7 linked regions of the Homo sapiens genome follow. The protein of the gene in region 4 interacts with the protein of the main gene of each other region in a biochemical or structural test. Each region holds a gene or a part of one and is shown on either strand. Other genes may lie near its edges. The genes, in order: USP28, MDC1, TRIM63, USP15, USP21, STAM and GSPT1.

What was found.
Region 1: of the proteins of USP15 (region 4) and USP28, one has a biochemical effect on the other in vitro, tested with the Homo sapiens proteins (one large-scale study listed by BioGRID).
Region 2: the proteins of USP15 (region 4) and MDC1 form a complex in vitro, tested with the Homo sapiens proteins (one study listed by BioGRID).
Region 3: of the proteins of USP15 (region 4) and TRIM63, one has a biochemical effect on the other in vitro, tested with the Homo sapiens proteins (one large-scale study listed by BioGRID).
Region 5: of the proteins of USP15 (region 4) and USP21, one has a biochemical effect on the other in vitro, tested with the Homo sapiens proteins (one large-scale study listed by BioGRID).
Region 6: of the proteins of USP15 (region 4) and STAM, one has a biochemical effect on the other in vitro, tested with the Homo sapiens proteins (one large-scale study listed by BioGRID).
Region 7: of the proteins of USP15 (region 4) and GSPT1, one has a biochemical effect on the other in vitro, tested with the Homo sapiens proteins (one study listed by BioGRID).

What each region holds. Positions count from the first base shown.
Region 1 is NC_000011.10:113,812,914-113,817,049, forward strand, and holds part of USP28 (ubiquitin carboxyl-terminal hydrolase 28), read right to left. Parts: intron 2,470-4,136; coding exon 2,261-2,469; intron 1,043-2,260; coding exon 972-1,042; coding exon of another isoform or gene 963-971; exon of another isoform or gene 842-962; intron 1-841. UniProt on the Homo sapiens protein: Deubiquitinase involved in DNA damage response checkpoint and MYC proto-oncogene stability. Involved in DNA damage induced apoptosis by specifically deubiquitinating proteins of the DNA damage pathway such as CLSPN.
Region 2 is NC_000006.12:30,707,171-30,711,306, forward strand, and holds part of MDC1 (mediator of DNA damage checkpoint protein 1), read right to left. Parts: intron 1,188-4,136; coding exon 396-1,187; intron 285-395; coding exon 214-284; intron 1-213. UniProt on the Homo sapiens protein: Histone reader protein required for checkpoint-mediated cell cycle arrest in response to DNA damage within both the S phase and G2/M phases of the cell cycle.
Region 3 is NC_000001.11:26,053,686-26,057,736, forward strand, and holds part of TRIM63 (E3 ubiquitin-protein ligase TRIM63), read right to left. Parts: intron 3,966-4,051; coding exon 3,943-3,965; intron 3,643-3,942; coding exon 3,518-3,642; intron 280-3,517; coding exon 208-279; intron 1-207. UniProt on the Homo sapiens protein: E3 ubiquitin ligase. Mediates the ubiquitination and subsequent proteasomal degradation of CKM, GMEB1 and HIBADH.
Region 4 is NC_000012.12:62,266,583-62,270,718, reverse strand, and holds part of USP15 (ubiquitin carboxyl-terminal hydrolase 15), read right to left. Parts: intron 1-4,136. UniProt on the Homo sapiens protein: Hydrolase that removes conjugated ubiquitin from target proteins and regulates various pathways such as the TGF-beta receptor signaling, NF-kappa-B and RNF41/NRDP1-PRKN pathways.
Region 5 is NC_000001.11:161,158,263-161,162,935, reverse strand, and holds the start of USP21 (ubiquitin carboxyl-terminal hydrolase 21), read right to left. Parts: upstream 3,437-4,673; 5' UTR 3,258-3,436; exon of another isoform or gene 3,236-3,257; coding exon of another isoform or gene 3,170-3,235; exon of another isoform or gene 2,571-3,169; 5' UTR 2,430-2,570; exon of another isoform or gene 2,317-2,429; coding exon of another isoform or gene 2,296-2,316; coding exon 1,696-2,295; intron 899-1,695; coding exon 839-898; intron 667-838; coding exon 546-666; intron 322-545; coding exon 210-321; intron 18-209; coding exon 1-17. Other genes in the region: UFC1 (ubiquitin-fold modifier-conjugating enzyme 1), read right to left, coding at 4,444-4,524. UniProt on the Homo sapiens protein: Deubiquitinates histone H2A, a specific tag for epigenetic transcriptional repression, thereby acting as a coactivator.
Region 6 is NC_000010.11:17,709,888-17,714,023, forward strand, and holds part of STAM (signal transducing adapter molecule 1), read left to right. Parts: intron 1-3,381; coding exon of another isoform or gene 3,382-3,493; exon of another isoform or gene 3,494-4,136. UniProt on the Homo sapiens protein: Involved in intracellular signal transduction mediated by cytokines and growth factors. Upon IL-2 and GM-CSL stimulation, it plays a role in signaling leading to DNA synthesis and MYC induction. May also play a role in T-cell development.
Region 7 is NC_000016.10:11,874,129-11,878,264, reverse strand, and holds part of GSPT1 (eukaryotic peptide chain release factor GTP-binding subunit ERF3A), read left to right. Parts: intron 1-684; coding exon 685-858; intron 859-2,089; coding exon 2,090-2,179; intron 2,180-2,335; coding exon 2,336-2,504; intron 2,505-4,136. UniProt on the Homo sapiens protein: GTPase component of the eRF1-eRF3-GTP ternary complex, a ternary complex that mediates translation termination in response to the termination codons UAA, UAG and UGA.

The sequences.
Region 1 (4,136 bases), on a different chromosome or scaffold from region 4:
GGCAACAAAATTTAAGTTAACATATTTAATTCAGCCACATGCTTCTTAGAGTTAAGTGACCACTTATCTATCTGGAGTGAAGACCCTTTTAATGACATACTTGTTTGTTACAACATTTGAAAAGCACATTTGTGTATTTTCAATATAGAGAAAATAGAGCAATGCTTAAATGCTAACTAAATACTAGTAAAAGAGATGAAAGTCAGTCACAGAATCAAATTAAATTTACACTTACTTTGACCTATTTTAATTACTGGTGAAGATTTTTGAATTAACACAAAAGAAAAAATGGGGAAGCCTGCGTTTTACATGGTGCATTCCTGTTAAGCAATGGGACTGTGCCTCAATGCCATTCTAGAAACAGGGCTCCCCTCCTCCAAGCCATTCTGCCCATTCCAGTCATTCATACAGAAGCCACTGAAAGTCCATGCCCCTAACCAGAATAGGTTCAGAGACACTCCTGGAGGCTCTTTACCCCTCCATTCCCAGAATTTATTCTAACAAACACTTCTGTGGATAGTTAAGAATTTCTGTCCTAACTCTCTTTTGGAATTTATTATTACAGAAATAAAGCTTGAACGCATGTTGTTAAATTAAAGATCTTGAAGAATCATGGAACTTTGGGAAAGAAAGGATAACTGTTCTCTAGTTCAGTTTTTCCCACTGCACTACTTAAAGTACCATTTTGTAAGTAATTTTTATTAGTATCTGACAGCAAACCTTTCTACAATATGAAAAAATTCCATGTGGCAGAATTCAAACAAGTATGTGTTAGGTCCTGTTTTTGGTAAAAGGTATATTGCTTTCTTTAGCCTAAAATAAAGAAACAGAACAACATCAATTTATATCTTAAGTTTATTCTTTTATCTTAGGGGGATTCCCATTGGGTTTAAAAGAAAACTATCAAATTTGATTTTTGTATCTACCATTAGCACATGCCTTGACTACTTTCCCATCAATTTTCATTCTACCTGACGAAGGAGAGGATCGCAGTACATCTGTTCAATAGTCTGAGTAGTACTTGCAATACAAGTCTTTAAATCTGTTTGGAAAAAGAAAAACAAAAGCTTCACTAAAATGATCTCATTCTATGTCACACAGGCTACTTTAACTAAGCAAAGAATATTGCTAGGGTCCTAATGATTTCAGCTTCCCTCTATGAACCACGAAGCAATATACAGTTTTAAAGCAGCTAGTACTTTAGGTTATGAAAGCTTTTAGTTCAATATAATTACATTAAGGTTTTAAAACATTATTTTTTATAATTGCCAAAATTTCTTAAAGAGTAAGCTGTTTAGGAAAAGATCTTAATGGGTCACTTGGCTGTAAAATGTATGCCTCAGACAGGATCTGAAATGAGAAAGCAGAACAAAGGGTAAGGCTAAATTTCTCTGAATAGGAATCTGGGAAGAATCTGTATTTTCCATCATCTTTTTGTTCCCTAGACAAAAGGAGACAGGAAGGGGGGTAAGGTTAGTCTGAGCAATATGGGCAATGAGGTCAAAGGGCTTTTTAAGAATACAATGCTGAATAATCCAATTTTACATTGTGCATACTGCTCAAATACCTCATTAACCTTCAGTAAAGCATGCTTCCTATAGAAAAGACTGAAGAGTAGAAGTCCAGAAAAGCTAAATGCTAAATCTGGGTCAACTTAAGCTGGAGTTCAGATAATCTACCACAGAAACAGAAATCAGTTGATGCAGAAAAATCTCAGCAAAGGTGATCATTTCCCAGAAATTTTGAGGGGGAGATCTTTCCATATCTGTATAATGGGGGTGTGTGAGCCAAGTTTACAGGGCACTAAAAGTGCAAAAGAAGTCACAATTACCATGTCAAAATTCAAAAGCATGGGCCAGACGTAGTGGCTCACACCTATAATCCCAGCACTTTGGGAGGCCAAGGCAGGCAGATCAGTTTTGGTCAGGAGTTTAAGACCAGCCTGACCAACATGGTGAAACCCCATCTCTACTAAAAAAAAAAAAAAAATCAGCCAGGTGTGGTGGTACATGCCTATAATCCCAGCTACTTGGGAGGCTGAGCCATGAAAATCGCCTGAACCCGGAAGGCGGAGGTTTCAGTGAGCTGAGATTGCACCACTGCACTCCAGCCTGGGTGATAGAGTGAGACTCCATCTCGGCGGGGGGGAAATTCTGTAGCATGTACAGTAATGTCAGGAAGTGTACCGAGGTGCTTAACCTCCAAATAGTCAAAAAACAGAAAAAGCAAAGAGTAACTGACAAATTTTAAAAGAGCCAACCTTGTATATCTTGTTCAATCTCACTCCTCCATCTCTGAAGACAGGTCTTAACAAAATTTATCTCCTCATCTGTGACTGTTCGTGGAGCTGGCTGTGAAGGCATTTCCATGGAAGACCGAGAAGATGTCAGTGGTTTAGACTTGGGTAAAGAATCTTCAGGAGAAGAAAAGGTACTTTCAACATCCTGAGAAGAGCTTTCTGTACTTGTACTGAGGAAGACAAAAATCATGCTCATATGATAATTTCCAAAAGATACCTTGGCCTAAATTATGTACTTTGGAAAGCAAGATGCTATATGAAAAAGTACAGGTATTCAGTGAGCATTAACTCTATAAAGGTACAGAGCCAACCTTTTTCTCTATCATCTCACGTACCACAACTGGCCTGTGAGGTAGATACTTTTCTATCCCTATTTTACCAACTGTGAGCCTAAGGTTTAAATAAATTAAGCAACATGCCCAAGTTCACCAAGCTGGAAGGTAATGAAAATGAATCCAAAGCCAGATCGGCCAGTCTTTAGCTCATGTTCTCTGATCACTGATTATTCCTTCCCATGAGGATGGGAAGAGAAGGAAAATGGAAAAGAGAAGACTAGGCCTGGAAGAATCAAGGAATCAACTACAGAGTTTACAAGATGAAGCCAACTAAAGTGACACTATCCTTCCTGGAACAAAATACACAGAAGGAAGAAAAAGGAAGCATCAGCTGAACATACAACTCACAGGAATACACACTAGGTGACACCTTGGAGAGTTCTGAGAGAAGGGCTTCAAGTCAAACAATCCTAGCTCTACTACTTTAGCTAAATACCCAAGGAAAAAAGTATTAATATCTCATCTACAAAATATAAATCTTAAGTTCTTTACGTCTTTTCTGTAAACTAACAGAGAATAAAGCATATCAAGTAAATGTTAATTTCTCTATTGTCAGAGTAAAACTGCAGGTCAACAAACCAGCAGGAATATAAAATAAGCTTCTAATTGTAGTTAGGTTTCTCTTTTACACCAAAGCTGAAGAATATAAACTTCCTTTACTTTGACTTAAAAAAAAACTCTCACTCCTGCCGGGTACGGTGGCTCACGCCTGTAATCCCAGCACTTTGGGAGGCTAAGGAGGGCAAATTACCAGGTCAAGAGATCGAGACCACCCTGGCCAACATGGTGAAACCCCATCTCTACTAAAAATACAAAACTCAGCTGGGCATGGTGGCACGCCTGTAGTCCCAGCTACTTGGGAGGCTGAGGCAGGAGAATCGCTTGAACCCAGAAGGCGGAGGTTGCAGTGAGCTGAGATCATGCCACTGTACTCCAGCCTGGCGACAGAGTGAGACTCCATCTCAAAAAAACAAACAAACAAACAAACAAAAAAACCTCACTCCCTCCTCCTCACTCTCTCACATGCACAAAATAATGGAGGAAATCTCTTTTCCCTAAGGTCCATACTTATGGAAAAATAAGCCCAACAAGGGAACAGATATCTCAATTTCAGAGGAGATTACACACATACACCTCCCTGTAATTTTTAAATCTAATACCAAGCACTATTATTTTATTTGATTAAATAGCCTGCCGAACCACTTTTTAAAAATTAAAACTTTACATTTCATAATATACATAAAAAGATTCTATTTTTACAAAAATTAAAAAATTTAAGTAGAATATAAAAAGTGAAAGAGCAGCCCCACTCCTATCCCCAGACTCATGTCACTCCTTAGAGATAATCATTCTTGACATTTGGTATGTTCTATCCAAATAAGCATTTCTATGCATACATGGATGAATAAATATTAATACGTGGGGCGGTGGCGGGGGATGTGTTGGGGAGAATAGTTAAGATTTTTTGACAAAAAAGTCTAACTTTTTATTGAGTATTAGTG
Region 2 (4,136 bases), on a different chromosome or scaffold from region 4:
CTTTTGAGTCAGGTAGGAGATACAACTTAGGAAACAGATATGGAAAACAACGGGTGCCGAGGATAAAGGAATAGAAGCCAATCAAGGCGTGACAAAAATGGAAGAAAACTGAATAATGAGAAAGGAATAGATTAAAGTGAGGCTAGGTGAAAGAGCATTGGAGAAGATATAGAGATGACTTGTGGAATAGGAGGTAGAAAAAGTAGCTCTCACCCTGGAAACCTTCTCAGCAGCTCTGATCCTGGAAGCCTTCTCAGCAGGTGGCATCTTGCAATTCAGGAGGCCTAGACAGAAAGTAAACACAAAGGTGGCTGAGTTCCAAGCAGCTGGTTGCCCAGGGGTTGATTATCACGAGGCCTGTGTATCACCTTGGGTTCCCCTCTGCCTTCACTTACCTTTCTGATGCCTCCTGGGGCTCACTGGGGATCCCCTTCCACCTGACTGGCTCCCAGAAGGTACGGGGGCTGAGGTAGGTCCCGGAAGGTCCCCCGCCCCCACCCCAGGCTCTGGTGTTGGGCTGGAGGCCTGCCCTTTCTGGTCCTGGCTCCCTCCCTCTGGCTCCCCTCTCTGTGTATCTCTCTCCAGGATCACTTTGGGCACCTTCTCTTCTAACTCGGCTGGATCGCACTCTCTGTTTGCTACTGGTCTCTCTACTTCTCTCTCAAATGCTTTGCTTGGAAGGGTCTGCTTCTGTACTTGTTTCTCTTGTATTTCCTCAGATGTCTCAATTTCTACCTTCAAACTCTCCCTATCTCTTTCAGGACTTGCACTTTCCCCATTTTTGTCAGATTCTTGTCTCTGGGTGTCTCTAGCTAACAACTGTTTTTGTTCTCTGTCCTGTTTCCCCTTGGTTAATTCTTCCTCTCCTGTCACATCTGTCTGTCTTTCTGGTAGCAGTTTCTCAGTTTCTCTCTCCAATGGCCCTCTCTCAGGGCCCACCCTCTCTGCTGTTTCTTTTGGTATACCCATGACTTTATCCACAGTCTGCCTCCCTCTGCCTTGAATCCCCATTGGCTCTGTGTGAACTGGGCTCTCTGGATGTTGGTCTCCTGGTATTGCCCTAGGTGGAGACAGGCAAGGTCCATAGGCCTCAAGGTGCGTGTCAAAAGGCTGGGTCTCAGAGTCCTCAGACTCTCTCAGACAGAATGGCTGTGTAGCCAGGACCTCCCATGGTTCATCTAGGGTACCTGGAAGGGGAGGAAGGAAGAGAGAGAGAGGGAGAGGGAGAGAAAAGAGGGAGAGGAAGAGGGAAAGGGAAGTACAGGTTGACATAATAAATATGATGAGAAAGGATTTAGATAAACTCATGAATAATAAATCTGAACAGGTTATTAAAGGTAAGCTGGGAATAAGGGTGGTAGTTATAACATTTAACGTTTGTCTCAAAAAGGTCATAGCCTTAGGCGGGCATGGTGGCTCAGACATGTAATCCCAGGACTTTGGGAGGCCAAGACATGAGGATTGCTTGAGGCCAGGAGTTTGAGACTAGCCTGGACAACATGGCAAAACCCCATCTCTACAAAAAATACAAAAAAATTAGGTGTGGGGACGGGGACCTGTAGTCCTGTAGTCTCAGCTACCCGGGAGGCTGAGGTAGGAGAACTACTTGAACCCCAAAGGTCAAGACTGTAGTGAGCTGTGATCATACCACTGCACTTCAGCCTGAGTGACAGAGACTCTGTCTCAAAAAAAAAAAAAAAAAAAAACCCAAGAGAAAAAGAAAAACATCATAGCCTAATATGAGTTCCCTGAATAGTCTCTCATCATACCACTGCATTCCAGCCTGAGTGACAGAGACCCTGTCTCAAAAAAAGAAAGAAAGAAAGAAAGAAAGAAAAACATCATAGCCTAATAAGAGAGTTCCCTGAATAGTCTCTCTCTCTCAAGACAGTTTCACTCTGTCACCCAGGCTGGAGTGCAGTGGCATGATGTTGGCTCACTGCAACTCCCAACTGCTGGGCTCAGGAGATCCTCCCACCTCAGCCTCCCAAGTAGCTGGGACTACGGCATGTGCCAAAGTGCCCGGCTAATTTTTTGTATTTGTTGTAGAGATGGGGTTTGGTCTTGAACTCTTAGACTCAAGTGATCCACCCACATTGGTCTCCCAAAGTGCTGGGATTACAGGTGTGAGCCACCATGCTTGGCTGGAATTTCCTTCTTTTTAAAGGCTGAATAGTATTCCACTGTGTATATATACCACATTTTCTTTTTTCTTCATTGACACATAATAATTGTACATATTTATGGGGTACCTGTGCTATTTTGACTCATGCATACAATGTACAATGATAAAACCAAGATAATTGGGATATCCACTATCTCAAACATTTATCATTTCTTTGTCTTGGAAACATATCAAATCTCTTCTAGCTATTTTGAAATACACAATAAATTATTAACTATAGTAACACTACTGTGGAACTGAACACTAGAACTTATTCATTCAATCTGACTGGATTTTTGTATTCATTAACCAACCTCTTTATGCATTCTGTCCCTCTACCCTTCCTAGCCTTTGGTAACCACCATTCTACTCTCTACTTCCATGAGATCCATGTTTTTAGCTCCCACATGAGTGAGCATACAATATTTGCCTTTCTGTGCTGACTTATTTCACTTAACATAATGTCCTCAGGGTTCATCCATGTTGCTGCAGATGACAGGATTTCATTCTCTTCTGTTGCTGAATACTGTTCCACTGTGTATATATACACATTTTCTTTTTTTTTTAGATTGAGTCTTGCTCTGTCACCCAGTTTGGAGTGCAGTGGCATGACCTCAGCTCACTGCAACCTCTGCGTCTTAGGCAGCAATCCTCCCATCTTAGCCTCCCGAGTAGCTAAGACTACAGGTGCATGCCACCATGCCCAGCTAAATTTTGTATTTTGAGCCACTGCACCCAGCCTATATACACATTTTCTTTTTTTTTATTATTAGAGATGAAGTCTCACTCTGTTGCCCATGTTGGAGTGCAGTGGTGTGACCTTGGCTCACTGCAACCTCTGCCTCCGGGGTTCAAATGAGTCTCCTGCTTCAGTCTCCCGAGTAGCTGGGACTACAGGCACCTGCCACCATGCCCAGCTAATTTTTGTATTTTTAGTAGAGACAGGGTTTCACCATGTTGGCCAGGCTGGTCTCAAACTCCTGACCTCATGTGATCCACCCACTTCGGCTTCCCAAAGTGCTGGGATTACAGGCATGAGGCACTGTGCCCGGCCTACATTTTCTTTTCTTTCGTTTTTTTGAGACAGAGTTTCACTCTTGTTGCCCAGGCCAGAGTGCGATGGCACAATCTCAGCTCACTGCAACCTCTGCCTCCTGGGTTCAAGGGATTCTCCTGACTCAGTCTCCTGAGTAGCTGGGATTACAGGCATGCACCACCACACCCGGCTAATTTTGTATTTTTAGTAGAGACGGGGTTTCTCCATGTTGGTCAGGCTGGTCTCAAGCTCCCGATCTCAGGTGATCTGCCTGCCTTGGCCTCCCAAAGTGTTGGGATTAGAGGTGTGAGCCACTGTGCCCGACCCCGGCCTACATTTTCTTTATCCATTCATCTGTTGATGGACATTTAGTTTGATTTCATATCTGCCTATTGTGAACAGTGCTGCAATAGTGTGTGTGTGTTTTTTTTAAGAGACATTGGGGGTGGGGGTTGAGGGATGGGCTATTGCCCAGACTGGGCTCAACTGATCTTCCCATCCTGGCCTCCCATGTAACTGGGACTACAGGTGCTCACTACTATGCTGGGCTAATTTTTTCATTTTTGTGGAGACCAGGTCTCTCTCTGTTGCCCAGGCCAGTCCCTAAATATTTTCAACCTGCAGCTGGTTGAATTCACGGACGCAAACTCGCATACACAGAGGGCTCACTGTAATCAGAGTATGAAAGAAACATGTAGGAAGGCAAATCAAGAAAGAACGCAGGCCGGGCGCAGTGGCTTACGCCTGCAATTCCAGCATTTTGGGAGGCCGAGGCAGGCGGATCACTTGAGGTCGGGAGTTTGTGACCAGCCTGGCCAACATGGTGAAACCCTGTCTCTACTAAACATACAAAAAATTAGCCAGGCATGGTCATGGACAGCTGTAATCCCAGCTACCTGGGAAGCTGAAGGAAGAGAAACCGCCTGGGAGGCGGAG
Region 3 (4,051 bases), on a different chromosome or scaffold from region 4:
CATTTTATTATGAATAGTTTGGGGTTTTTTTCTTTTCTAAGGGTAAAGAGAACAGGACTTTACCCTCAGTAGGGTTAAAGCACGTGCTGGGGACAGTTCTGAGCGTCATTGCCAATGTCTAACACAGTGCTTCACATACAGTAGGCACCTCAGATTGTTGTGGAATGAATGAAGGAACGAAGGAATGGAGGTAGATGAATTTCTTACCTTCTTCCTTCCCTTCTGTGGACTCTTCCTCTTCCTGATCTTCTTCTTCAATGAATTCTTCCTCTTCCTCATCTGTGACAAAAAAACATTTGTGTTAGGATGGGGCCGGTTCCTTGAGGAGCTACTTGAAGAGGAACCAGGCAAGAGAGAGCACGGTCTAAACCCCTTCCTGTGCCCAGTCGGGTCAAACGGCCACACAGCGGCGGCAGTGGTCTGGGAGGGGATGGGCTTGCCAGACCCACGCTGCACAGAGGCCCTGCTCCTGCAATCCCCCGCACTCCGTCCCAGGGAGCTGGGCTCAAGTCACTTCCTTGCTCCAGCAACAGCAGCTTCTATCACCTGCTCGCCTGTGACCAGAGAGGGGACTCTGAGGAAGCGCACTCTGTGCTTCTGCACATCTCTCGGGTAGGCAGATAAACATTGCCTGAGGAGGAAAAACCTCCTCGATCCTCAGGGATCAGAGTCCTTGTCTTGAAGGAAGCTACTTAGCCTATGAGATCTGCTTGTTCAGCAGCCACTGTCCCATTTTCCTCATTCCTTAGCCTGTGGAGGGGAGGGGTGGACATGATGGGGAAGCACTTCTGGAGCCACCTCTGCTCCCTGAAGCTGAGCACCAGAGGGACAGTGACTGAGCTGCAACTCATGTCCCCACTTTTTTATCCTGAGATGTCACCGTCAAGCTTTAACAGGGAACATCTCCCTTCCCCGCTCCTCTCCCAAGCTACCTCCTTAACCTTTTGGGGCCCTGAAGGGGTCACCACAGAATCAGAACATTTGTCAAGAGTATCTTCAGGCCAGGCTTGGTCGCTCACACCTGTAATCCCAGCACTTTGGGAGGCTGAGGCGGTCAGATCACCTGAGGTCAGGAGTTCAAGACCTGCCTGGCCAACATGGTAAAACCCTGTCTCTACTAAAAATACAAAAAATTAGCTGGGTGTGGTGGCATGCACCTGTAATCCCAGCTACTTGGGAGGCTGAGGCAGGAGAATCTCTTGAACCCAGGAGGCAAACGTTGCAGTGAGCTGAGATCACACCATTGCACTCCAACCTGGGCGACAAGAGCAAAACTCCGTCTCAAAAAAAAAAAAAAAAAATAGTATCTCCAAAATGACAACCAAAATTCCAGCCAAGTAACTGATATCAGAGTATAACCCAGGGAGTTCTGTTGTTTAATCATTGTCACAATGACTACATTTAATAGCAGTTGCTGAGTACTTACTATGTGCCAAGTAGTGTGCTCAGTGTTGAATCTGCATCGTCTTATAAAATCCTCACAAGAGTTTTGCAAGCCAAATGGCCCTCAGTAGAATCTGCACAGGCTACTTGCCAGCTGTGTGGCCTTGAACAAGTGGCTTACCCTCTCTGAGCTTTAAGTTCCCTCAACTACAAAATAGAGATGGTAACAGAACCTATCCCATGAAGTTGTGTTAAATGATAAAACTTATGTTAAGGGCTTAGCGCCTAGGACATACAGAATATTCAGTAACTGGTGACTGTTGGTACTCTCCTCATTTTACTTGTGGAGAAACTGAGGCTCAGGGAGATTAGGAAGGCCAGTGCAGGACTTCACAATGTTATGTTCACACCGTATGACCCACTCTTGAATATCTATTTCTTTCTTTTTTTTTTTTTTTTGAGATGGAGTTTCACTCCTGTTGCCCAGGCTGGAGTGCAATGGCGTGATCACAGCTCACTGCAACCTCCTCCTCCCGGATTCAAGCAATTCTGCTGCTTCAGCCTCCCGAGTTAGCTGGGATTACAGGCATGCACCACCATGCCCAGCTAATTTTGTATTTTTAGTAGAGACGGGGTTTCTCCGTGTTGGTCAGGCTGGTCTGGAACTCCTGACCTCAGGTGATCCACCTGCCTTGGACCCCCAAAGTGCTGAGATTACAGACGTGAGTCACTGTGCCTGGCTGACCCACTCTTGAATATCTTAGCTTAGGGAAGCTGACAGTGGAGCAGCTCACTACAGCAGTGGATGTCCCCAAGGCCATTGGTGTCTCTGCTTTGGGATGTATTTTGTCCTTACCTATGAATGGGGTATATCTGGGGCTCTGAAAACAGACTTAGCACCAGCTACTGAAGGTTTGTAGGAGAGCGACACAGGAGGTGCCAAGAAGCTCTTCTCTTTCTCACGCCAGCCATTTACAGTTCTTCCTTGTTCCTTCATCATCCCCTTGTCCCCCAACCTCAGCTGGTCATTGGAGCACCACCTCTCAGACCAACGCAACAGTCAGCAATGTGGGATCTGCCCTCTCTTTCTCTGTTGCCTTTTAGCTGTGTTTCCCTTTTAGCTGTGTGACCTTTAGCAAATTAACATATTTGCTTCCATTCAGTTTCTTCATTTCCTTTGTTATTTTCACCCTTATTATTGTTACGGTTGCATTGTTACAATTATTATAGGCACTCTATGGAAGAGTAATTATAAACAGAAATGAGGACATGATGTTGATCAATTAAGGTGCCTGGGTATCATAGGTGATAGCATTAAGAAACTGAAGCTAAGACTACCTTTAGGCAATAACTAGTACATCTTTAGGGCTCTACAGGACCTTTCTGCATTGATATCTGATTTTTTGCAACAGCACCATGAGTTGGTCATTATTAGAGGGCTCACTTCTAACCTGACTTTTTAAATTAGAAAATAAAACTCAGGCAGAAGGGGGCTTGCCAAAGGTCACACAGATAAACAAATGACAGAACCAGGATTTAAACTCAGGACTGTCTGATTCCAGAGGGCATATTATTTCTACTGCCCCAAGAGGCCTCCCTGCCATGGATCCATATGTAATTTATGAAGCAGGAATTCTGCACCAGGCACTGTGCTAGGCTCTGGGCTCATCTAGAAATCGACTATATGAATTTTTTTTTTTTTTTTTTTGAGATGGAGTTTGGCTGGCTCTTTTGCCCAGGCTGGAGTGCAGTGGCACAATCTCGGCTCACTGCAACCTCTACCTCCTGGATTCAAGTGATTCTCCTGCCTCAGCTTCCCAAGTAGCTGGAATTACAGGCACATGCCATCACGCCTGGCTAATTTTTGTATTTTTAGTAGAGATGAGGTTTCACCACGTTGGTCAGGCTGGTCTCAAACTCCTGACCTCAAGTGATCCGCCCACCTTGGCCTCCCAAAGTGCTGGGATTACAGGCATGAGCCACCACAGCCGGCCAGAAGTTGGCTATATGAGTTTGATTGATATTTGGGGATCTTTATTAGTGTATCTGCCTCCCCATCGGGCTCAGTTGGAGGGATGCTGGTTTCCAGGGGTCAGGCAGGCAAATAGACAAGTGGCATCACCACCTCCTTTACCTGTCCCAAAGTCAATGGCTCTCAGGGCGTCTGCTATGTGCTCTAAATCCAAAGTAAAGAAGTCCATGTTCTCAAAGCCCTGCTCTGTCTTCCCCAGCTGGCAGCCCTTGGAAGCTTCCACAATGCTGCAGGGGAGACAGAAAGAGAGGCAGGATGAGGTCTCTGGGGCTCAGTGCAGGGAAGAGAGGGCACATGCTTTGCCACGCCCAGGCCTTCTACCCAGAGGCTCCCCTGGAGGGATGGAGTATTTCCTCTCCAACCTCAAGCACAAGGAGTGGTCCAAAAAGTCAGGGATGCAAAGGGTCAGGGAAGCCAGCCTAGAGTGAGACCCTCCCAGCAGGCCTAATGCCCAGGATGAGGCTTCCTGGACAGAGGTCCTGGTGGGAACTAGGTGCTTGGATCATAGCCTCTAGGAAGACACTGACCTTTTGATGAGTTGCTTGGCAGTCTGCAGGGGGAGAGAGAACAAAGGATTAGGACCGCAGAAGAGGTAACCGCAGGAAATCAGCAAAACTAGTGAACTAGGTGTTGTAG
Region 4 (4,136 bases):
TATATGTCAATCAAATATAGAATCTAGAAATAAACCCTCACTTTTACAGTCAATTGATTTTCAAGCAGGGTACCAAGATAATTGCACAGGGAAAAGAATGATCTTTTTGACAAATAGTTTTGGGACAACTGGATAACCACATGCAAAAGAATGAAATTGAACTCCTCCCCTGACCATATACACAAAAAATTAACTCGATTGAATTACAGACTTAAATGTAAGAGCCAGAACTACAAAACTTGGAAAAGAAAATATATGAGTAAATCCTCATGACCTTGAGTTAAGCCAAGCCTTCTTAGACATGATACCAAAAGCAAAAGTGACAAAGGAAAAAACAGGCAAATTGAATTTCAATAAAATAAAAACTTCCATGTTTCAGTGGACACTACCAAGAAAGTAAAAAGAAAATCCACAGAATGGGAGAAAAATTTGTAAATTAACTATTTAATAAGGAACCTGTATCTAGAGAACTTTTACAATGCAATAATAAAAAGACAAAATAACCAAATTTTTTAAATGGGCAAAGAATCTGGACAGACATCCAAAAGACATACAAATGGCCAATAAGCAGGTGAAAAGATACTCAACATCATTACCTATCAAGAAAATGCAAATCAAAACTACAATGAGATACTACTTCATATCCACTAAGATGGCTATATATTAAAAAAAAGAACATAAGTGCTGACGAGGTGAAAAAACTGGAACCCTCATACACTGCTGGTGGCAATGTAAAATTACGGCCACTTAGAAAAACAGTCTAGCAGTTCCTTAAAAAGTTAAACAGGGACCTAGCAATTCCACTTACAGGTATATACACGAGAAATGAAAACTTGTAATGGATGTTCATAGCAGGATTATTCAAAATAGGCAAAAATTGGAAATTCAAATGTCTATCAATTGATAAATGGATATATCAAATGTGTTATATCTATACAATGGAATATGGTCACATACCACATAACAACATTTAGGTCAATAACAGACACATTATGTCTGGCTAGACACAGTGGCTCATGCCTATAATCCCAACACTTTGGAAGACTAAGGTGGGAGGAGTGCTTGAGGCCAGGAGTTCAAGACCAGCCTGGGCAACACAGCAAGATCCTCATTTCTACAAAAAAATAAAAATAAAAAATAGACACAGTGGTGCTTGCCTGTAGTCCTAGCTAATTGGGAGGATGAGGCAGTGGAATTGCTTGAGCCCAGGAGATCAAGGGCAATGTGAGCCAATATTGGGCTACTGCATTTCAGTCTGGGTGACAGAGCCAGACCCTGTCTCTAAAAACAAAAAAGATCATAATATTGTATTTTTACTCTACCTTTTCTATGTTTAGATATATATATATACACACACACACATATATATATTTATACACACACACATATATATATACTTACCATTGTATTAGAATTGACTACAGTATGCACTACAGTAACATGTTGTACAGGTTTTTTTTGCCTAGGAGCAATAGGCAATACATCCTAGGTATGTAGTAGGCAATCCCATCTAGATTTGTGTAAGTACCCCCTTAAGATGTTCACACAACGACAAAATTGCCTAACCATACATTTCTCAGAAGTTATCCTTGTCATTAAGTGACTCATGACTGTATCATTCAGCAGTAAAAATAAACATTGATATATGCTATAACATGCATGAACCTAGAAAACATGTATGCTAAGTAAAAGAAGCAAGATGCAAAAATCGCACATACTATACGATTCCATTTATATAAAATATCCAGAATAGGCAAATATATAAAGACAGAAAATAGATTAGTAGCTGCCTAGAACAGAGGAGTTTGGGAGAGAAATGGGAGGTGACTATTAATGGGTATGAGGTTCCTTTTTGGATTCCAAAATTGATTATGGTCATGGCTGCACAACTCTTTCGAGTATACTAAAACCCAGTGAACTGTCCACTTTAAGTGGGCAAATTGTAAGGTATGTGAATAGCATCACAATAAAGCTGTTTTATATATACATATATATTTTAAAAGCAAAGAATGGAGGGGCCACAAATTTGGATGAGATTAGAGGTGGTTTTAGAGACTGACTTTGAACTAGGTTTTGAAATGAAAGTCAGTAATTTTTAAGAAGTATCTGAAACAACAGAAATGGGGCATAAAGGCCCCAAAAGCAGGAAAAAGCAAATAATTTGCAGGAAATGGGAGACACTATCTGTATCAAAACAGAGATATGTTAATTAGAAATGAGACTGCTGAGACTACAAGGCTAAAACAAGAAGACTCACAAAATTCTAGAGGCTCTTGATATTAATAACAAATGAAAATGTGTTTAACAAGTATTACAAAGCTGTCATTTCTTGATTTTAATACTTTCAAGTATTTGTCTTTCAAAAAGTTGCTTCCATAATCTGGGTATGGCTCTATCACACATAGGCAGGCAGTACACTTAGAATTTAAAATGCAAGCTTTAAGTTAGACCTCCTGCTCTACCACTGACTAAGTGTTATGACCATATACATTTAACTATCCCAGTTTCTGTACTGGTAAAATGAGAATACTACCATGTATTTCATATATGTAATATATTTGGAATAAATATATTACATTATATATGGAACCTGTATCTAGAGAACTTTTAAAATGCTCTTAACATAGTAAATGAGTAATAAGTTATTGTAAACCATAGCCACAACTATGTGGTACATATAAATACTTAGCTACATCTCTCCTGAGAATTAAAAAGTTCTTCAGCTTGAAATCCATTCAAATGTATGAATATAAATTTCCCATCTTTTTATCAAAGGCAAATCTCTTGACTAACCTGTTAAACTTTGTTAAGCTGTAAAAACATATGGGTAAATAACAGAAATCAATCCAGATTACCAGGTGTTTTCTACCTGGAACAAGGAACTTGATGCTCTTTTCAGTTAAGTAACTTTGTCTCTAAATGTTCTCAGGTCTTGATTTAACTGGCTCTAAACTTAGAATACCCTGGCCTCAGAGCCACCCTTGAACTTCTTTGTGAGATCTTTGACTTCCTTCACAAAGAAGTCCTTGCTACTGGTACTTCTGCTAAATGATTTTCTCTTATGGTGGGGAATTACCACGCTAATATCTGGGTCTTCTCAAAACTAAAGGGAGAATGGAAGGGACAGTTAGCATTCTTAGTTCTCCATTCCTTGGAGGAAAAAAAGGCATCATTACTCTTTTCTTTTTGGAGAGCTATAAGGAAACCATGTAGAATCTTAGTGATGGAAGTAGTAAAGGCAGTCTAGACATAATCAAATGCAGGTTAATCCTACAGGGGTTTTCTGTTTTATATTATAATTGGAACTTATTTCCTTCTTTGTAAGGAGCCATTTTTGACCCTTCCCTCAAATAATTTTAATCTGTATCCAAAACTGAGGCTACTTACTAGGCTTATGCTAGATTTCTTGAATAGTGACTTTTGTGTAAACTGGGTGATAAAATCTAAAGGATCTACATTCCCCTGTTTAAAGGATAAATGGGAGAACGAGTCTGGCGAAGTGGCTTCAGAGGAATGAATATGAGACACAGAATGTGAATTACAGTGGTAAGTGAGGAAATTAAAAGAAACAAGCTAGACTGACATTACTCAGGGAAGAAAAAAAGTATTTAGTAATTGTTGAAAAATTCTATACAAGGACTAAGAAAAAAGAGAAATTCCCATGGTTTAATGAAATATTGTTTGAATTACATTCGAGTAGTGACAGCATAAAACCATTTTTAATACTAAGGATCTATTCTTAGTATTAGATAGTATCTAGTACTTTAAATCTTTATAAACCAGGTATTTAAACCAGCTCTGAAATCATCAAAGATAAAATGAAGTGTAATAAGAGCATGTACTTTAAAGGCTATGTAAGTGTAAAGCATTTAAAATAGTGGCTGCGACAGACTAAGCATTTAATAAATGTCCGCTGGTAGTAAACTATGAGCAAGCAAATTAATTTCTCTCAGATTCCTCATCTATAAGTCATATAAATATATATATTTTGGTCCTTCTTTTGAGGATCAAATCTCGTAATGCACATAATCAACCTTTATCAGTTGTTCTCTATCTTCCCCTTATTTCCCTACCAATATGCCCAATGGTTTCAATTTACTTTTGTCAATAATCATGACTTATTAATGAAGTGATTT
Region 5 (4,673 bases), on a different chromosome or scaffold from region 4:
CTTGGGCATCCTGCTGGCTACAGCCAGACAAAGAGTATGGGCAACTGACTCCTCTCCTAGTCCACAGACACTATTCCCTGCCCAGATATTGGTCCCCACTTCCTGGATGAAGAACATCTCAAGGCTCAGAACAATGCTGCCAGGGCCCTTGCTTGGCCCTACCCCCAGACATGGCCAGAGAGAAATCCCATAGCCTCCAGCTCTCCCACCTGTATCCAGAGAAGGAGGGAACATATTTCTGGAAGACAGCTCGGAATCGAGTAGGATTCACAGCTTCGCAGGAGTCAGGGTGCCAGAGGGCACCAATCACATCTGCAAAGGCTGTTGGGATGGGAGTGGGGAAGGCAAACAAAGGTTAATGTCTGGAAGAGGCAAGCAAAAGGTGGCTCAGAGGGTAGAAAATAACCTTTAGGAAAGTAGGCACTGGGAAAAGTAGATACAACTGCCAGATTTAAGGGTTGGGGGCCACCACCAGTGGCAGATGGACCTGCAAGTGGTTGGGGAAAAAGGGACTTGAACAGAGGGAGCAGGAGTTGTTGCCCCACCTTCAGTGAGCTCTTGGGCTCGGCCTCCTCCAGGCACCTCTTGCCGGAAGTCCCTTCTCAGACAGAAGTCCCGAAGAGGTCGAGTGCTGCTCAGACACTGCAGCACAGCATTCAGGAAGCACTGGGGAGCAGTAGGGACACTGCTGTTATCTCTCCAGACCACTGCCCAGGAAGCCTTAGAAGAGCTTCAGAGCTCTCCTTCCACATGCCTTCCCCAAGCTCGTGGGTTTTCCCCACCCCCAGCACCATTTCACATTCCTTTTAGAGAGGAAAGATAGGAGAATAGCTCTCACCGTGTTTCCCAGGTTTCGAAGGCCAACATGACCAGAGCCCAGAAGGAGTGTGTGATGAGCCTGGAAGGTCAGAGTACAATCGGCAAGTTCCTATATATCCTACCTGGCACTTTAACCTTTCAACAGCATGCTGCCCACTGCCTCCCCCATCCCATGCATGTTTCATCCCCAAACTCTACCCTATTCCCCTCACTAGGTATTCTAGTCTCCCTACCTCACTGGTCATGAGCAGTAAGCCCATCACAGCTGAATGTACCACGGACTCAGCCATGGCTGTCCCACCTGTTGCCCACTTACTCCTCTGCTCAGCTAGCTGACGTTGCAGCTCCTGGGGCAACTCCCCCAGCACCGGCATGGTTGCCCAGCTGCTCACCACTCCCACCTTTCTGCCCCCAAAACCCCCTCCTGCCCCCGTGGCCCCTTCTTGCCCTTCTCCTGCTGGCTCCAATTGCAATCAGCCTAGCTTACTTAGCTCAGAAAATGTGCAACCACGTTTGCTAAGATGTTCTGTGCCTGCCTCTCTTTAGCTCCAGAGATTAATTAGGCCTAGGCAGAGTCCCAGTAGAGAAGGTGCAAGCAAGGGAAAGGAAGGGCCTGGGGACCCAAAGAAGAATTCTAAATAGTTGGGGTAATCCCCTGGGGACCGAAATGGCACACCATGCTGAAGAGTCACCAACAACCCAAAAAAGGGTCTAGGAGGCTCAAGGGTATTTAAGCAAGGGAGAGGCATGTCCAAACTGCTGTAATGAAGGGCTGAGAAAGGAACTTCAGGGAAATGGGGGACAGAAAAGGCAGAGGATGGCAGGAAAGCACAGAGGAACATGGGCATGAAGGCCATGTGTGTGGCAAGTCCTCACCATCTTGTCATCAGAGTAGAAAGGCTCAGAGGACCGGGCGGATATCATGTGGAAGGAGCCATGGGAAGCAGGGGGCTCTGTCCGTATGCTGAACAGGGTAGGGGGTCCAGGAAAGCCCCCTAGGCGGCGGAGAGAAGTGCTACGTCTCAAAGTGGGTGGCTCAGGCCGGAGGGCCAAGCGGCTCAGTGCAGCCCCAAGCTCTCCGGTGCCACGGTGCCCTCCCAAGGCAATCCCCATTGGACGCAAGTCCCCACTGCTCACAGACTTGGAACGGGCTAAGTTGGTCCGAGATGGGAGAGGCAAAGCCACTGTTGGGGGTGGTGAGCCAGGCAGGGGAACCCCATGATCTGCTCGAAGGGGGCCTCTGGGACGAGGGCCTGAGGTCCGTCCCCGTCCCAGCTCCAGTTTCTTGAGCCGTTCATCAGGCAGACCTGGCCGGGGAGGCAGAGGTCGTAACATGGGGTTTGGCCCAGAGGCTGGGTTTCTGCGCTCCTTGCTGCGGGCCCTGGGGGCAAATGGTAGCTTGGATCCCACTCGGGGCTGGATATTAACAGGTGGCTCTCGGGTACGGCCCAGGCGGTGCTCAGAGGCCTGGGGCATTGTGGACACCACAGGCTGGACCTGGGAGGAGAAGAGAGTGTCAGCATTTGAATATGGGGGGAAATGGGAACCCAGGCTGCTGTACTGAACCCTGCCACACTAATTTTCCCTTATTGCTTTGCCCCATTCCATACCCACAATCTTGCTGTCCTCTCATTTCCACATTAGGTGGTTGGCTCAGTCATCACCACTACCACATCAACGAAAGTGGGGAGCAGTATACGCACTGAGGGCAGGAACCAGATCTATCGAATCAGCCATCGTATCCCCAGTACCTGGCATCGTGTTTGGTACAAAGTAAATACTTAGTATCTATTGGGTAAACAAATGAATGAAAGATAAGCAGCCCATGGCTTTGACCCTTTCTATACTCCCGACCCCTCCCTGCAGAACACATCTTTACTGAAAAGCCAGTGATAACTCCTATCTCGGCTCTAACGTAACATGGGACCCCATACCCGGCTAGTAAAGTAGGATGTGCCTCGGGTCACTTAAGACCCTAGCCAAATGGTAGTGTAGATGCAAGAATAACAGCCCAAAAGACAGCCCTCCATCCTCGAATCCCTGCCTCTCTGGGCTGCAAATGAAGCAGACTATATGGGTGACTTACGATCCATTCCCTCCCCCACCTCCGACCTCCGACATGGTGTCGAGGTTCAGAAAGCAGTAGTCGGGGATGGAGGACGAACAACTCCTTGACCCTTAATCTCTGCACTTCTCCCACCACAGCAGGGCTTTAGCCGGGTCCGCCCCCCTCGAGGGCAGAAAGGCCGAGACCGCTGATTGGCTACGGAATCCGGCGGCGTATTCCCCGCGGTCCAGGGATGCTGTCCCTCCAGCCCAGTTCTCCCAGGCCCCGCCGGGCCCCACGCGCCTTTGTGGAGAGTGTCCTCTCGGGTCTGGAGCAGTCTTCCCTCTGCGCCCCCCCACACCCCGCCATGCCATAACGCCCCGGCCCGTACCTGTCCCCCAGTGAGGCGGCGGGAGAGGCCAGCCAGGGCCAGGCCCCAGTTCAGGGCCACCCCCTACTACCCCCGTGCAGCCCCCCCGTGGGCCCGGCTGCAGCTTTAGCCGCAGCCGTTGCCCAGATCGCTCCCGCCGCAGGGGCCGCCGCCATCTTTGTTGGTCCCGCCCGGCCACCGGCCACCGGCTTCACCGTCTCTCAAAGCGCCTGCGCATCCACACCCGAACTCCTCCCACCGGTCCCTTGGCGCTTGCGTGAGCCCGCCCCCACGGCTCCGCGATCGACACCATGGAAACGCAGCCAAGTTTAGGGTCGCTGGTTCTCAACGCTGCCCAGAGAGGTCTTTAATCCATGACTCCAAAGCAAGTCCCTGAGGTATAGGGTGCCGTCGCCCCATCCTATAGCCCATAGGGATGGAGATCTGACAGTCGTAGTATGGCCGCGAGGCTTACAGCACAGATCCTTCCCAAACAGCAGGGGCGCAAGTATGGCAAACTGCAGGCCTGGGTCCAGCCCGCAGACCAGTGGAGAAGCATCTAGCACTTCACAGAGGGCTGGGAAGATCCCTGGAGGGCGGGAAGTGCTGGTCCGGCAAAACCACTTCTTGCAGGCTAACACGGTAGGGCAAAGCATGGCTCACCACTAAAGGACAAAGGTAGATCTGAGCAGCAGGGGGAACAGTCAACATTTCATTCCCACTCCTGACCAGAGCATCCCCTATTTCCGACTCTTTCCCAACCCAACCCGGCGTAGCTGTTCATGTGCCTCAGGTTTCAGCCCACTTGCCCTCTGTTAACAGCTCCCAATGAGAACCACAGGCTACCAGAGGAAGCAGCTTTTATTGATGGGTTATCTCCAGAAACCAGAAAGACTATATGTACTCACTTTCAGTTACCCCCGTGCCTCCAGAATCGCATGTTGCTCCACCTGGGGGCGGATATAAATTACCTCTAGATTGTCCAAAGCCCAGTCTTTCCCTTCCCTGTGCAGCCTTAGAAACTAAGTAGCAGTACTGTTTGGTGTGTGTTTGTTTCTTCCCCAGCAATGCCTACTGCAGCTACTTAGTAACAACTAGAGGTGGAGGGTGTCCGGGGAAGCAGTTAGATGAGTTAAGTGTGATGCACAGGAAAATAGTATCGTAGCCTATCAAAGGTCCCTCTGCCCTGCCTCAGTGGCTTGATTCTTCATTGGTTGCATTTCTCTTTGTGTTGGATGACGCCCTTCTGAATCAGATCAGGGATTTCCACTGCCAGCCATGGACCCAGCTGCAATACAAGGAAAATCCTGTGAGATTACTACCAGTCAATGCTTCTTGTTCCATTAGAAGCTCCTTCCTGGAGACAGATTCTGGGGGAACATGCTTAAGGGACATCACTGTTATTCCTTTTATTCTTAGCTGCTTTTCTTGTACTGC
Region 6 (4,136 bases), on a different chromosome or scaffold from region 4:
ACATGTCAGAAAACAGGGCATTCCCTAGTGGGTTCTGTATCTTAGAAAAAAGTGTTAAGTGTAGCTTGCACTCTTGCAGGATTTTTTTTTAAGTTGAAATCTGGTGGAAATGAATACCCTTCTGGAAAATAAACAGCTGTTCTTAGAGTAGCATGTTGCTTTACAACTAGATACAAAGGGGCTAGAAGGTAGGAATTGTTGAGAAGACACTAGGGTTCCTGACTTAATAGGACCCTGCAGCTATTTTAGTATTAGCCGGAACTGCCACTTTTCCCCTGCTAGTCCTCTGTTTGACTATGTCACATGCTGCTCTACCTTCCTTGTTACTAGAGATTACTTGAGACTCATTCTTCAAGGTCGGGGCCTTGGGAAATTATCCTTGTGAATGAGATAACCTGTTGGTAGGTGCTTTAACAGTGAAGTTCTGTAGCGCTGTGGTACCCTGCTGCTGTTCTCTGTGTGTGACTCTGCTTCTGCATTCGGGATGTGAAATCCCTGGCATAGGCCCAACCCTACCCATAGAGTGTAGCTATTAATGTCACCTCTCAAGGAACACATGTTTATTTCAACAGGTGTCTTTTGAAGAACATTTTCTTGAAATATTTAGCCCTCTCGTCCTGGCTCATTCCTGCATATTCTTTAGTTGTTAGCTTAGCTGCATTTTTACTGGGACATCTTCCTTGCTTTTCCACCTCTCAGCACTGTTCCTCCTGTGTGCTGTCAGAGGACTGTGTGTGTACTTCCGTTTCCTGGCTGGTAGTTGCCTTTTTACTTGTTTGTATCCCCACTGAAGACAGTATCTTGAGAGCTGGCACTGTCTTTCACCTCTATAGCCATCCTATGTAGCACACAGTTTTACACTGGCTAGGAACTCAGTAAATATTTTATGAATACATGTTTTAGTGTTAATGACAATTTCAAGTGCTATATTAGACCAGTTAGGTGTATTTTTTAAAAATTCCTTGCAAAGGCTTCACAAAGGCTTAGAGGCCATTTAAATATCTATATATAAAGGTACAATATGTAATATCTGTTTATCAATATATAAAAACAGATGTGTGTTTGTGTGTTTCAACGGGGAAATGAGGAATTGCTGGTAGAGCAAATGTAGGATGAGGAAATTGGAAGGAGCGAGGGCCAGGGTTAGAAATTTCCTTACTAGAGGTGTCCTGCGTATTTGACTCGAGCTTTCTAGCGGCAAATCAAGGTCAGTGAGGATTGTTGTTGTTTTTGGTAGGCAGGTTTTTTAGCACTCCTCAGTTTATATATATCTGAGAGGCTATCTCTTGTTACATAAAATTTTGGTGTTAAAGCTCACTGTTTTTCAGACTTCTGTCATCCTAGGACAGTCTTATTGTTAGTTGGGGAAGGTGTCACTGATGACGGTTTTCTAAAGCTACCTGTAGCGATGGTAGTATTATAAGGTGATAATAAGTGACAATTACTGTTAGTATTTTGAGACCACTGAAGCTTATGTATTTATTTGTCTCTGATTTTAGTTTACTACAGTCAGCATGTGCCAGGCACTGTGTTAGACACCTGAGAGTCTTCTTTAGCTTCAAGGTGCTTACTGAGTAGTAGGGGCAAACACATAAAAAAATATAATTTTATACAACATGATTTATAAATAAAGAAGATATATGCCTTGTACCTTAGGAGCCTCAGGGTTTGAGGAAGTTTTCCAAGAGGGTTATTCTTAGCCAGTAGAAAAAAAGTGAGGAAGATGTTCTGTCACGTCAGAGATGTGGTAGCCTGGAATGGCATGGTACCCATGGAGTGAGCAAAGATGGGAGGTGTGAAAGGCGTGGTATGTATCGGCATTCCAGCAGCACACTTACCAAGGGTTGAAAGCGTGTAGGGGAGCAGCGAGAGACATACTTGAAGACACTGCCAAGGTCGAAGAATGCTTGTTCTAGATACCATCTTAGGGATAATGAAAAAGTTCAGAAAGGGCTTTAAATGGCAGTAGCGTAGATGGATTCATAGGGGCAAGATTAGAAGCTGGGAGACCATGGATATTAGGCAAGAAATTATGAGTATTTGTTGGCAAGATACAGTGCTATTAATTGGAAAGAGTTATTTAGGAGATTAGCAAATAATTACACATTGGGTGACATGGTTGGGAGACAGCTCAGTGCAGAGATAAGAGAAAGAAGTATTGGTGAATTGCATGGTTTTGCCCCAGGCAACTGGGTGGACGGTGGAACTGTAAATTGAGAATGATTACAATAATGCTAACATTTAAGGGGTATTTAGTATGTTCCAAGCACTGTGCTGTATGCTTTACACAAAGTAACTTATTCCTCATAATAACCTGTGAAGTCGGTAAACTATTACCCCCATTTTATAGATGGGGAAGCTGAGACCTGGAGACAAAACGGAAGTCCCACTTAGCTAAGATTCTAAACCAGACATTCTGACTCCAGAACCCAGCGCATAGACTCTATATTACGGCAATATTATAGCCCATACCATTGTCAATAATAGTATGAAATTTGACATCTCCTAATCAACTTTATATCTCACACATATGGAGTGATGACAAATAATGCCTTAGGTCACCACATTAGTTGGAGAAATGTAGCATTAAATTACCGTCTCTTATAATAAATTACCATCAAATAATGAATTTGTGCCAAGTACAAGAGCACTGAATTTCCCAACAATAGATTTATAAATAACAATTGGAGGAAAGTTTAGAAGTAGGCAGTATTTTGAAAATTTGGCAGTTGCTTTTTATATTGCTTGTTTTACATTTTTAATACAAATGTAGGGGGAATTCTCAGCATCTTAGTACTTCTCTTCACATAGCTAACCTAGTGTCTTACAGTGGAAACGCATGTATTCCGTTGGAAACAGGAAGACAGGAAGTAGAGGCAGTGGATAAAGACAACCCTTTGAAGAATTTTTTTCTTTCTTTTTTTAATGGGAGCAGTGCACAAGTGCAGGGACTTGAGATGGGAGTACTGGCAGCGGAGCGGTGGGAGCGGTAGGGAAGCTCAGTACGTGAGGGGTGCAGCTGCAGAGAGTTGATCAGTGTGGTGTTGGAGCGTGTGCTTCCGTATTTTCAAGGAAATAAAAGAAATGAGGTTATGAGGCCTTCCCTTCCACTAGTCCTTTGGGACCGTTCTTGTCAAGAACCCTGGTGATGCCCATACTGCTAGACTCCCGGTCAGTTCACCATTCTCCTCCTCCTCCATTTGACAGTTCGTGATTCCCTCCTCTTTTCTGAAATGCTTTCTTCACTTGCTGGTGACCATTCTCTTTTCCCTTCTGCCTCACCGCCACTTCTTCTCAGCCTCATTTGCCTCTTGCCTCTTTATCTTCTGGACTTCAAGGTCCAGTGCACAGTAGATGGACTGCCTTTTTCTCTGTTTGCAGCCGCTCCCCAGGGGACCTCATGAAGCCCGGTGATTCTGAATGCCGTGGATCTGCCGAGGATTCCCAGATGCGTATTTCTCCTCCGTACTTCCCCACAGGACAGCAGGCTTGAATAGCTGATTGCCTATGCAGGACAACAGGCTTGAATAGCTGACTGCCTATGCATTCTCTTTGCTTGCCAGTTTTTTGGACATCAAACTTGACAGATCCAAGATTATTACTTTGATCTTCCCCACACCCCTCCCACCCCCGAGTCTACTATGGTCCCATCATAGTATTCTGAAAATCAGTGAATGGCCACTCTACCAGTTATTTCTACCAGTTTTTAGGTTCTAAACCTCAGGCATTCTGGACTCTTCTGTTCATTATCATATTTTGAAGGCATTATCTTCAAAATCTATCTAGACTCTGACCCTTTCTCCCATCTCCACCATTACTGCCGTGGCTCTTCTGCTGGTCGGCTCTCTCCTGGTGGATCGTAATAACCTGCAGTCAGCTATCCTGGTCCAGAGGGAGCCCGTTAAACCCTGTGGAATCTTATCACGCTTCTGCTCAGAACGAGCCAGTGTCTTTCTGTCTCACTCAGAGTGTAAGCTACAGTCCTTATTGTGGCCATCAGGTGCTGTGTGTTCTCCAGCCCCCTCCCCACCACCGCAGTCCTGCCGGTGATCTTAGCTGCTCTCCCCTCGGCACCCCCTGCGGCCCCCTCTGCCGCAGCACTCGTGGCCTGCTGTTCCTTGAACATGCTTGGTGTT
Region 7 (4,136 bases), on a different chromosome or scaffold from region 4:
GGGTGCCTGTAATCCCAGCTACTTGGGAGGCTGAGGCAGGAGAATGGCTTGAACCCAGGAGGCAGAGGTTGCAGTGAGCCAAGATCGCACCACTGCACTCCAGCCTGGGCAACAAGAGCAAAACTCTGTCTCAAAATAAAAAAATAACAATGCTATGCAGCCATCATCACTATCTAATTCCAGACCATTTCATTACACCAAAAGGAAATGATGTATTCATTAAATAGTTGATAGACTTTTAAAGCTTAGTTCAATAATTTTTAAGTAGTGCATAATTCCGATATTTGGAGATTGATAGGTAATAGAAGACAGGTTTATTAAATCCTTCATAGAATTCCATAATAATAAAAATTATATCCATAAAACTGAAATCCAAATATTAAATTGTGTTTTCGATTTTGAAAAGGTAAAAAAAGGCAAATGCTAGTGTATACAGTGTTCTAGTTGGAAATGATTAGAATGTGATATTTAAAAGGTGACACGTTAATACTTTAATTGGCAGTTATACTTCTAGGATATGATTTTTGCTGATCATATCTAGGCTAAGATTTTATGTCATACAAACATAAGTGTTTACAGTCAAATCTTGCAACTCTTTATTGAGCAGACAGACATTCAGATCATTTTATGTTGCGTAATGCAGTGAATGTGTCAGAAAACCTCCAGTCTTGTTTTCTTTTAAAGCACAACGTGGAAGTTCTTGGAATACTTTCCGATGATGTAGAGACTGATACCGTAGCCCCAGGTGAAAACCTCAAAATCAGACTGAAAGGAATTGAAGAAGAGGAGATTCTTCCAGGGTTTATACTTTGTGATCCTAATAATCTTTGTCATTCTGGACGCACATTTGATGCCCAGGTAAACAAATTATTGTTGTTGTCATAGTGGGTTTTAATGTCTAAATGAAATTAGAATATCAGTGCCTTTTGTCCTGATTATTTGTGACATGCCAGTTAACCCATCTTAGTGTAGAGAAGGGGAATGGAAATATTATAAGCCACTTATATATCATAACCACAATAGGCACCTCATACAAGGTCTTCAAGCTGGTACAAGTGCTTACTGGATAAGGAGTATTCTTTGTAAGTTCCTTTTTATGTTTGATCTCCTGATGATACATTCTACAGTATCTAATATTCACTTTGACCAGAGCACAGTTACTGTGGAAGTCATGGTTTATGTGCTCATTGACAGCACATAGCTTTCCAGACAAGAAATCACACAGGTTTCCCTGTTATTAACAATCTAACCTCCCTGGGAGAATGACAGAGTAAGTGACTGGTGTGAATAACAGAATTTTTTAAAGTTCTTTTCTAAGGTATGACAACTAATCAAGTTAGATTTTGATGCCAGATGTAAGGTTGTTTACTTTACTGGACCTTGGATATTGAGAAATGGATAAAGCTGGATAAGTTTACATCTAGGTAGCTTCTGAGCGGTAAAAATTAGCTTAGTTCCTTGGGGAATATAAGGAAAGTCTTCCCAGATAAGAAAGTTGGCCTGCTGTCTTTTGTTTTGTTTGGAGATGGGGTCTTGCTCTGTCACCCAGGCTGGAGTGCAGTGGCGCGATCTTGGCTCACTGCAACCTCCACCTCCGGGATTCAAGCGATTGTCCTGCCTCAGCCTCCTGAGTAGCTGGGATTTAGGCGCCCACCACCACGCCTGGCTGATTGTTTTGTATTTTTAGTAGAGACAGGGTTTCACCATGTTGTCCAGGCTGGTCCTGAACTCCTGGCCTCAGGTGATCCCCCCGGCCCCCCTGCCGCCTCGGCCTCCCAAAGTGCTGAGATTACAGGCGTGAACCACTGCGCCCAGCCAGCCTGCCGTATTTTGAAAGTTGACCAGGGACTTGCCAAGAAGATAAATACAGGATAAGATACTGAAATTCATGCTTTGAGTTCAAGCAGCCTGACCCATCCTGTGAACAAAATTAGTAAGACAAACCTATCACCTCTAACACAAAAATCACTTAAGTTGATGTCCTAGTGAGATGGTAACACTAATTCTTGGGATTTATATGGCGCTTGAGAACATTGAATTCTTATTTACCCTAAGGCTAAAGATAAGAATGTGTGTGTTTGTTTGACAGATAGTGATTATAGAGCACAAATCCATCATCTGCCCAGGCTATAATGCGGTGCTGCATATTCATACCTGTATTGAGGAGGTGGAAATAACAGTGAGTTTAAGATAATTGGTTTATTTCTGTTTTAATACTGTTTTATCTTCATAATTTCTAATCAGCAACAGTGATGCACTTTTATTTCTACACCTGTTCTTAAAGATTATTTTATTTGGCATTATTCTGATTTTCTCATACTCTTTTCTTGGTTAGGCCTTAATCTGCTTGGTAGACAAAAAATCAGGAGAAAAAAGTAAGACCCGACCCCGTTTTGTCAAACAAGATCAAGTATGCATTGCTCGCTTAAGGACAGCAGGAACCATCTGCCTTGAGACCTTTAAAGACTTCCCTCAGATGGGTCGTTTCACCTTAAGAGATGAGGGTAAGAGCTTTTAAACTGACGTCTAGTAGTATATCCAGGATACCTAGCTTTGGTCATCTTCATCATCTCAGTACAGTACACATTGCAACAGGTTCACAGAAAACTTCGATTCACATTCTTATTCGTATGAGTGTTTTATGAGTTGAATGTATTGAACAGAATTGACCACGTGCTTTAGTAGTAATGCCAAATCTAGTAATGCTCTACGTGAAGAATCTTAATTTTGATGTTTTGTGAGTAGTGGATTTGGAGGGCTATTTTGTTTACTAAGATATTTCTATGATGTAATCCTTTGTAATATGTCTAGCGATTAAAAGGAACATAGAGATTGATTTTTTTTTTTACACCTAATTTTTCAGAGGTCTAATCTTTGTGACCTTTTGTGTGCATCCATTTCTGCCTACCTCTGGGTGACGCAGAACAACTAACATTCCCATCTTGGGGTCATGAAGTTCTTTGGCATAAAAACAAAATGATTGTTATGAAACGTTTCCTTATGAGCTTTTAATATTCCTGTCCTTTTCCTTTCCCTTTCCCTTTCCCTTTCCTCTTCCCTTTCCTTTCCTTTTTTTGAGATGGAGTCTCGATCTGTCACCCAGGCTGGAGTGCAGTGGCACCATCTTGGCTCACTGCAAGCTCCACCTCCCAGGTTCACGCCATTCTCCTGCCTCAGCCTCCCGAGTAGCTGGGACTATAGGTGCTGCCACCATGCCTGGCTAATTTTTTGTATTTTTGTAGAGACGGGGTTTCACCACGTTAGCCAGGATGGTCTTGATCTCCTGACCTCGTGATCCGCCCGCCTTGGCCTCCCAAAGTGCTGGGATTACAGGCGTGAGCCACCGTGCCCGGCCCAGCTGTTAATATTTCTAACTTAGATAACCATTTTAAGACTATAGAAGACTTTACATAAAACTTTATAGTTCCATTGAAATACAGAATAGTCATTTCACATGTTCATTCCAATTCCATTTAGCAAAAACTACTTTGTATCTACAAAGTGTCAGGAACTGTGCTAAGCCCTGGTGATGAATACAGTTCCTGAACTTTACATTGGATGAAATTGTATAAAGACAGTGTTTATTTTACTTTAAAGGCCCAGAACTCTTCTGGTTGATAGTAAAACTGGTTATTGGGTTTATCTTATTAATATAACAAAATGATAGTTTTAGTTTACCACTCAGAACCTGATAAAATCAGGAAGACAGAAGAAAAGCAATTAATGTAGCAGGAATTCTTAACCCTAGAATTATTTTTTCCTAAAAGCTAACTTGGCTTTAAAAAAAAAAAAAAAAAAAAAAAAAAAAAAGCTAACTTGGCTTTTAGGTTTTCCACAAGACCCAATGGGTTTTGTATCCTTTCAGTCCACAGGATTACTACCAGAAGGACGTGTTCACTGCACTGTAGTCAGTGGTGATTGCTGTGCCTTTTCACAGTTACTTAAGGATAGGTTTTGGGATTTTTTTTTTTAGCAGCTTTATTGAGATACAATTTCCATAATATGAAATTGACCTGTTTTAAGTATGTAATTCAATGAATTTTAGTATGTTTACAGAATTGTACAACCATCACCATATACTAATATTAGAACATTTAGAACACCTAAAAAGAAACCTTACACCTGTTCATAATCAC